Homo sapiens: one gene and its partner. The protein of the gene in region 1 binds, or shares a complex with, the protein of each later gene. Each region holds a gene or a part of one and is shown in the gene's direction. Other genes may lie near its edges.

What was found. The genes of interacting proteins can lie anywhere in the genome.
Region 2: the proteins of PTPN3 (region 1) and MAPK12 are in contact, whole or in part, in a crystal structure (PDB 4QUM), measured with the Homo sapiens proteins. Residues at the interface, in NP_002820.3 of Homo sapiens: Arg655, Leu671, Asn674, Arg675, Tyr676, Lys677, Asp678, Val679, Arg751, His812, Ser843, Ala844, Gly845, Ile846, Gly847, Arg848, Met883, Gln886, Thr887; in NP_002960.2 of Homo sapiens: Met182 (codon at 2,649), Thr183 (codon at 2,652), Gly184 (codon at 2,655), Tyr185 (codon at 2,658), Val186 (codon at 2,661), Val187 (codon at 2,664), Arg189 (codon at 2,670).

What each region holds. Positions count from the first base shown.
Region 1 is NC_000009.12:109,491,690-109,495,436, reverse strand, and holds part of PTPN3 (tyrosine-protein phosphatase non-receptor type 3), read left to right. Parts: intron 1-3,747.
Region 2 is NC_000022.11:50,255,062-50,258,808, reverse strand, and holds part of MAPK12 (mitogen-activated protein kinase 12), read left to right. Parts: intron 1-507; coding exon 508-566; intron 567-1,615; coding exon 1,616-1,727; intron 1,728-1,844; coding exon 1,845-1,874; intron 1,875-2,162; coding exon 2,163-2,210; intron 2,211-2,609; coding exon 2,610-2,724; intron 2,725-2,927; coding exon 2,928-2,999; intron 3,000-3,114; coding exon 3,115-3,194; intron 3,195-3,277; coding exon 3,278-3,356; intron 3,357-3,438; coding exon 3,439-3,612; intron 3,613-3,747. UniProt on the Homo sapiens protein: Serine/threonine kinase which acts as an essential component of the MAP kinase signal transduction pathway.

The sequences.
Region 1 (3,747 bases):
AAGGGCTCAGCTTTGGGGATGGGAGGGAGTGAGAAGACATGGCACCCTGCCTTTCCCCAACCCTCCGGGTTTGTGGTGGTTGAGAAAAGACCAGCAATTTGTGGTCCCTACATCTTTTCCCAGGAGAGCTCACCTTCCAGCATTGCGGTCCTGGAAAGCAGGGACAATGCCTCTTTATCTTTTCCCAAGATCTGTTGTAGAAGCTGGAATGCTGAAGGCACCCAGCACATACCCTGGTCTGGAAGGGCTGGTGGGGGTGCAGTAGCCTACCCAGCATCAGCTCTTCATTCCAACTCTAATAGAGACAGGAGGAGACCAGGTCAGTGTCCACACTGCTCTTGGCTGGGTCCAGGTGACCTCAGAGCCTGATCTTATAGATGTCTTCTTTCCTCTGGCCGAGAAGGACCTGAGAAGTGCTTGGTAAGCCCCTGGCTGAAAACTGATTTGGTAATGGGTTCTAAGACCCAGAAATGTTGCATCTCCAGAGCTTCTGCTTGTGTGTGCACCTGAAGCTTCCCACTGCCCCCAGGTTAACTTGTTATTCCAAGACCAGGTGTGAGCACAGATTTAACAGCAAATTGAGACATTTATTGAGTCTCTACCATGTATTAGGCCATAGGGCTACAGAGGTGAACGCTGAACCCCTGCCTTGGAAGGATTCATGGTGGATTTGGAAAGACAGTTTGTATATGTGTATGTGCGTCCCCATCCATCTGTCCATGGTCCTGTAAGTACTTTAAAAGGATAAGCTAGGTGCAAGAGACACCAGAGGATGCAGCCATTCATTCCGATGGGCATCAGGAGACACTGTGGAGCGTAGTTCTAACCATGGGGAGAAGTTAGTTCTAACTTCAAGGCATAATTTGAATTAAGCCTCAAACTTAGGAACAAGATGGCATTTAGGGCAGGCAAAACAGCAGGGGCAAAGGCATGAAGAGACTTTGTGGATCATAGGCGTGGTGATTCTTCTCCAAGTCCAACCTGGTCTTTTTTGTTTTTTGAGACAAGGTCTCACTCTGTCATCAGGCTGGAGTGCAGTGGCCCGATCATGGCTCAAGCAGTCCTCCTTGTACCTCGCACCTGGGACTACAGGCATGTGCCACCACACCCAGCTAATTTTTTATTTTTTGTGGAGACAAAGTCTTACTATGTTGCCCAAGCTGGTCTCGAACTCCTGGGCTCAAACAGTCCTCCTGCCTTGGCCTCCCAAAGTGTGGAGATATAGGCGTGAGCCACCGCACCCAGCCAAATCCAGCCTCTTGGTGTTCACTAATGCAGAACCCACCTGCTCTGGTTCGGGTCTGCTTTATCTCTGTACATGGGCCAGGCCTCACCTAGCCCAGGGCTAAGTGCCTATTCTCCTTGTTTTCACCTGGATGGGAGCAATGCCACTGTGTTGTCTTTGAGGCAGGAGTAACTTCTGCAGGGATGCCTCTGGTTTTAGTTATCAGCACTAATCTGTACTTATTGGTTGCCACACACTGTTGTGAGTGCTCTCCAAATAGTAACTTAATTCATTTAATCTTCACAGCAACCCTGTCGCCAGGCTGCCTCCCAGGTACAAGTAGGTGGGGGCTGAACTCCTCTGCCCAGTGTATGTCCCTCTGTGGGTGATGCTCTGATTGTGGCCCGGCCTCCCCCTGGCTGCCTTTACATAGATGTGCCGGGAAACAGCCCAGTCTGAATTGCAGTGGAGCACTGACCCCATTTCCTTTAGGGGACCGGCAGGACTGTGCTGACTGCGTTTTCTGAACCAAAGAACGGGATCTGTAGTGTGAAAAAAGAATGTGTGTGCCACTGCTTTGTGCAAGAGGAGGCCTGAGAAGTGTTTGGATACTGAGAGAGTGGAATTTTTGAAACATTTTGATGGTTTATATGGAAAGTTAGGACAGAGGATTTGAAATTGGAATAGTCCTGGAAAATTGAGGTCCCATGATTTACTGTTAGGATACACAAGCTTTTAGTAAATGTTTAAGCAGTGTAGAGTGAAGTGAATTTTTTTTACTGAGCCCCCATAGGGAACAAACAGTGCATTTTAGCCTCAAAATCTGACTGATTCCTTCCAGCCCCATTTTACAGAGGGGGTGAGAAAACTGAGGCTCAGAGAGATGAAGTAACCACCAAAGAGCACAGTGTTTGTAAGCAGTGCAGCCGAGATTTGTCTTTTTGGTTTTTGTTTGTTTGTTTGTTTTTTAAATATAGAGAAAGGGTCTCGCCATGTTGCCAGGCTGGTCTTGAATTCCTCGGCTCAACTGATCTTCCTGCCTCAGCCTCTCAAAGTGCTGGAATCACAGGCGTGAACCACTGTGCCTGGCTGCAGCCAACATTTGAACCCAAGTCTGTGCCTAGACAAATCATCTGTTGTCAAAGTCAAATAAAATATAAAAACAGATGTTTCTCTAAATTTAAAACATTTTGCTTGGGAAGTAAGAATAATAATTTGGGAAATCTATACAGACTAGGTGGTCTTTGGTTTGGAAAACAAAGAGAATGTTGGGAGTTTTATTAGAATGAGAAATATTATGTATTGTTTTGAAAAAAGTCCATCGGCACTAGAGAAGCTCTTCGGGAGCTGGCAAGCTCTGATTGTTGCATGATGGTAGCAGATAAAACTAGTCTTAGGGTCACAGCAATTTGTTTCAGTAGTTATTAAATAAAACTGGTTTTAGGTTATAACAGGCAGTTTTAGCAGCCACGCTTGCAGAGAATTACATTTTTGGAGCAATGTTATGTGCCCTGAGTATTTTTCCCCTGGCCTCTCAACTCTGATTTAGTTGGGCATTACAATAATGACCCAAATTGTATAATCAACTTCCACCCTGTAAAATGAGGATCATAATTGCACCTATTCCCTTTAAGTTGACTGTTGTCAATGAGCTAATGTGGAAAACTAAGGCAAAACTTGGCATAGAAAAGGGGTCCCTCACTTTGTGGTCAGACCCCTGACCCTCCAGACAAGTGCTTTGATCTGTGTTCAGTGCTGAGAGTCGCTGTGGGTGAGTGAAGGTCCCTCCTCAGCCAGGACCACAGGTCCCGGTTCTCAGGACTGAAGGGATATTCCAAGAGGGAGCATCCAGGACTGTGCAGGGGCCATGGCTGCCTGAATGCTGTGCTGATGAGGGTCCCCTGGCGTAGGAGTGGGGTTGGAGACCTGGCCCATGCATGTCACCTCCCTCAGCCACATCAGCTCAAGGGCTAGCCCAGAGGTTCTCGGTGAGGGAGGCAGCAACCAGCTCCATCAGCTGTTTTTTGACCGCCAGCCACCATTGGGCCTGGGGAGGGGAGGTTGGCCTCTGAGCTCAGTCTTCCCCACTGGCTCCCCCGAGTCCCCTCCCCTGCTCTGGTTATCAAATGCATTCATGGTTCTTGTAGAAAATAAAGTGTCAGGGAACACAAGAAAAATTATGCATGATGCTTCTCTGAAAGCAGCTGGTCCACTGTCAGCACTGCCATGATCTGCACATGCCCTCTCCTGCTTCCAGTGGATTCTCTACTCCACAGACGGGGGAGTCTTCCATACACTCCTATTTTTCTCAAAATGAAGACAAAGCTGATCTCTCAGCATCTCCTGCAGGCCCTATGTTCATGCTCTTTGAGCCCTCACCTCACCGTGCTCCTTCCTGCTGCAGGGACTGCAAGAGCCTGGGACCTTCTCCCCCTCCCCACTGATTACTTCATCCTGTGGGTCTCAGCTCCATGATTGCAGAGCCTTTGCTCACCTTCCTGACTTGAGTTAAATTGTTGCTA
Region 2 (3,747 bases), on another chromosome or scaffold:
CTGAGGCGGCAGTTGTCACATGACCTGTCTACTGTCTATCTCCCCAACCAGGGGTGCTGAGGGGACCAGGTCTGGTGGGTCACGGTGCTGTCCGCCTGGGCCTCACCAGCAGAGGCCTGGCCTCTTTCCATAGCGCTGTCCCCACCCTGGGCCTGGATCTGTTTGGTTGGGGTGAAGAGGGGTGAAAGGGTCAGGCGGCAGGAGCCCTTTGGATGGTTCGGAGCCATCCCAGACTCCGGGTTGCCCCTCCCCCAGAAGATCCCGGTTGTCACCGTCCAAAAATAACCTTTCTGTGGGTATGTGTGCCAGGGCTGGGCCACACTGCCAGTGGGTATGTGTGCCAGGGCTGGGCCACACTGCCAGTGGGCAGAGCCAGGCCCTTTGGACAGTGGGGCATGACAATGACAGCTGCAGAGGGGGTTTCCTGCCCAGAGGGTTGTGCCACTCTTGGGGGGTGCCCCAGCCCGTGTCCTCTGCTGCATTCTCAACCCTATGTGGCCCCCCCAGGTGATCGGGCTGCTGGACGTATTCACTCCTGATGAGACCCTGGATGACTTCACGGACTTGTGAGTGCCGACCTGGGCTGGCCGCTGGGCACGAGGGGTGTTGGGCAGCTCTGGGCACTGGCTTCAGGTTCTAGGTTGGCAATGGGGTTCTCTTCCTGCAGCCTGAGTGGGGGATGCACACCGCCCACCCCCTCCCCATACCACTGTCCACCCCACGCCCTCCCCCACATGGTCCTGGGACCCACGGGCACTGGCACAGCTGGGCAGAGCTGGGGCTGCTGCCTCTCTCCACGCCTGGCACCTGGGCCCTCTCCAGCACCGGAGGTGTGAACCTTGGACCTGACCATTTGTTAACAGGAAGGTCCCGTGCTCGGGACCCTGGCACCAAGTGTGTGGCCGGTAACTGGAGCTGCTGACCTTTTCCAGCGGGTGGGGGAGAAGCGGTAGGGAGGACCCACCCTGCCCCTGCCCTGCAGCCGACCACCCTGGGACTCACACCCTGTCGGCCAAGAGTGAAGGGCCAGGCCGAGGAAGGCCTGGAGAGGGTAGCAGGCGCCTCCCGCCTGACTTGCAGAGGTCAAGTCAGTGGCCTCTGGGAAGGTGCTAAATACCATTCTCCTGTGTCTGTCTCCACCGGCCCAGCCGACCCCTCTGACCCAGATGCCTTGCCGCGCCCCCATCGCCCCCAGGCACCTCCCTCATTTCTGGCACAAAGTTGTGAAGTTGAAACCTGACTGCCTCCCTCCCCTGCCTGTGAAGACTCGAGTCCTGCTGCCTCTACCATGGAGCCTCAGCCCCTAGCCTGGCACGCAGGGCGCTTCAGCGGAGGGTTCAAAAACCCCAAGGCAGCCTCCTCCCTGCCTGACAGTCCTCAGGGTGGGAGGGGGGTGTGAGCGCTGCTGGCAGTAACAGTTGCGGGAGGATGGAGCCTGGCACTGCAAGGTGGGGCTGCGAGGACACCGAGGCCAGTGTGGATGTGTGCTGCAGGGGTGACCTTCCTGGGGGTGCCTGTTGGATCCGGGACGGGTCTGAGCCTGGGCCTGCTGGGTGGGTCTCTGGGATGCAGAGGCTGGCTCTGTCCGCTGACAGCGCTCCGGCCCCTCCCACAGTTACCTGGTGATGCCGTTCATGGGCACCGACCTGGGCAAGCTCATGAAACATGAGAAGCTAGGCGAGGACCGGATCCAGTTCCTCGTGTACCAGATGCTGAAGGGGCTGAGGGTACGGGCCCCGGGGGAGGCTGCAGGGAGGCAGGCAGGGCCTCGGGGCTGGGCAGAGGAGGGCCCTGTGGCTCTGAGAGGGTGCGCTGAAGCCTGCCAAATCCTCTGCCCCCCGCAGTATATCCACGCTGCCGGCATCATCCACAGAGTGAGTCCCGGTGGAGAAGCCGCTCATCAGCCCTCCCCCAGTGCAATCCCCCCGCCTCCACGTCCCACCTGTGAGGATGTGATGGGGTCTGGGTGCTGAGCCACGCCCTATGCACAGCCCCTGGTGGGAACCTGCCTGGGTGCCCAGGTACCTTGGTCTGCCCTTGAAGGGCTGCAGAGAGCAAGGGGGCCAGGTCCGGTGGCCCCATCTTTAGGTGCCACCCAGGCTCTTGGCTGTGCCCATGCTTGGGAGGGTGGGGCACAGTGGCCACCTTTCCTCTGCCCCCAGGACCTGAAGCCCGGCAACCTGGCTGTGAACGAAGACTGTGAGCTGAAGGTGTGTGCTGCCTGGCAGGGGGCCCTGAGGTGGGGCAGGGGCCCCCTCTGGATCTGCCCATCTATCCACCTGTCAGGCCTGGGCAGGGGGCCAAGGTCCCAGGCTCTGGGCAGTGGCTGAGGAGCTGGTGGGTGGGTGAGCCCAAGAGGCAGTGGTACACAACATGCCGTACCCAGGGCACCTGCTCCGTCCCGAGGGCTGCTGGGCTTGGTGCACTGGCCAGAGGGAGGAGCTCGGGGCAGTTTGGGGTCCGAGGGCGTGGCCTCAAGTCCTTGAAGGTTGTCAGGAGGCCCCAGCTTGGGAGCTTCAAGTCCAACCCCCCGGGGTCTCCTGGACCGTGGGTGGCCTGTCCGCTCCTTGGGAGTCCCCTAGAACCCACCTCCCCAATTCTTCCCACAGATCCTGGACTTCGGCCTGGCCAGGCAGGCAGACAGTGAGATGACTGGGTACGTGGTGACCCGGTGGTACCGGGCTCCCGAGGTCATCTTGAATTGGATGCGCTACACGCAGACGGGTGAGAAGCTGCCCAGAGATCTGGGCCTCTCAGGCTGCACCATCTGCTTCTCCACTTCTTCACGGACAGCCCTGTGGTGGCTGCTCCCAGGGAGGCTGTTGAGCTGGGGTGGGAGCCGGGCAGGTGGGCTGTGTTGGTGTCTCCTCCCTCCCCGTCTCATCCTGTCCCCCTGCCCACGGAGCTGACCAGGGCTTCTATCTCAGTGGACATCTGGTCTGTGGGCTGCATCATGGCGGAGATGATCACAGGCAAGACGCTGTTCAAGGGCAGCGACCGTATCCTCCAGCCGCAGGGCGGCACCAGGGGCGGGTGGGGATGGCTCCTGCCCAGGTGGGGGCAGTGGGGGCCCTGATCTCTGGCCCCCGAGCTGTGTTCCTGACCTCGGTGCAGACCTGGACCAGCTGAAGGAGATCATGAAGGTGACGGGGACGCCTCCGGCTGAGTTTGTGCAGCGGCTGCAGAGCGATGAGGTAAGGGGTGAGTGGGGAGCTGGGTGGGGGTGGGGGCGGACCTGGGCCTTGGTGTTGGCCCCTCACCCTTTCTTCCCACACAGGCCAAGAACTACATGAAGGGCCTCCCCGAATTGGAGAAGAAGGATTTTGCCTCTATCCTGACCAATGCAAGCCCTCTGGGTACGGCTGGCTAGTGTGGGGGCCACCGGGTGCTGGAGTGTGGGGCCTCCCGTGGTCTGGCCTGATGCACCTTCCCCCGCAGCTGTGAACCTCCTGGAGAAGATGCTGGTGCTGGACGCGGAGCAGCGGGTGACGGCAGGCGAGGCGCTGGCCCATCCCTACTTCGAGTCCCTGCACGACACGGAAGATGAGCCCCAGGTCCAGAAGTATGATGACTCCTTTGACGACGTTGACCGCACACTGGATGAATGGAAGCGTGAGTGGGGGGCTCCTGGCACGGCCTGTGTGGACCCAAGTGGGGGGCTCTGGGCAGGGCCTGTGTGGACCTGTGAGTTGGGGGCTCCGGGTAGGGCCTGTGTGGACCCGTGAGTTGGGGGCTCCGGGTAGGGCC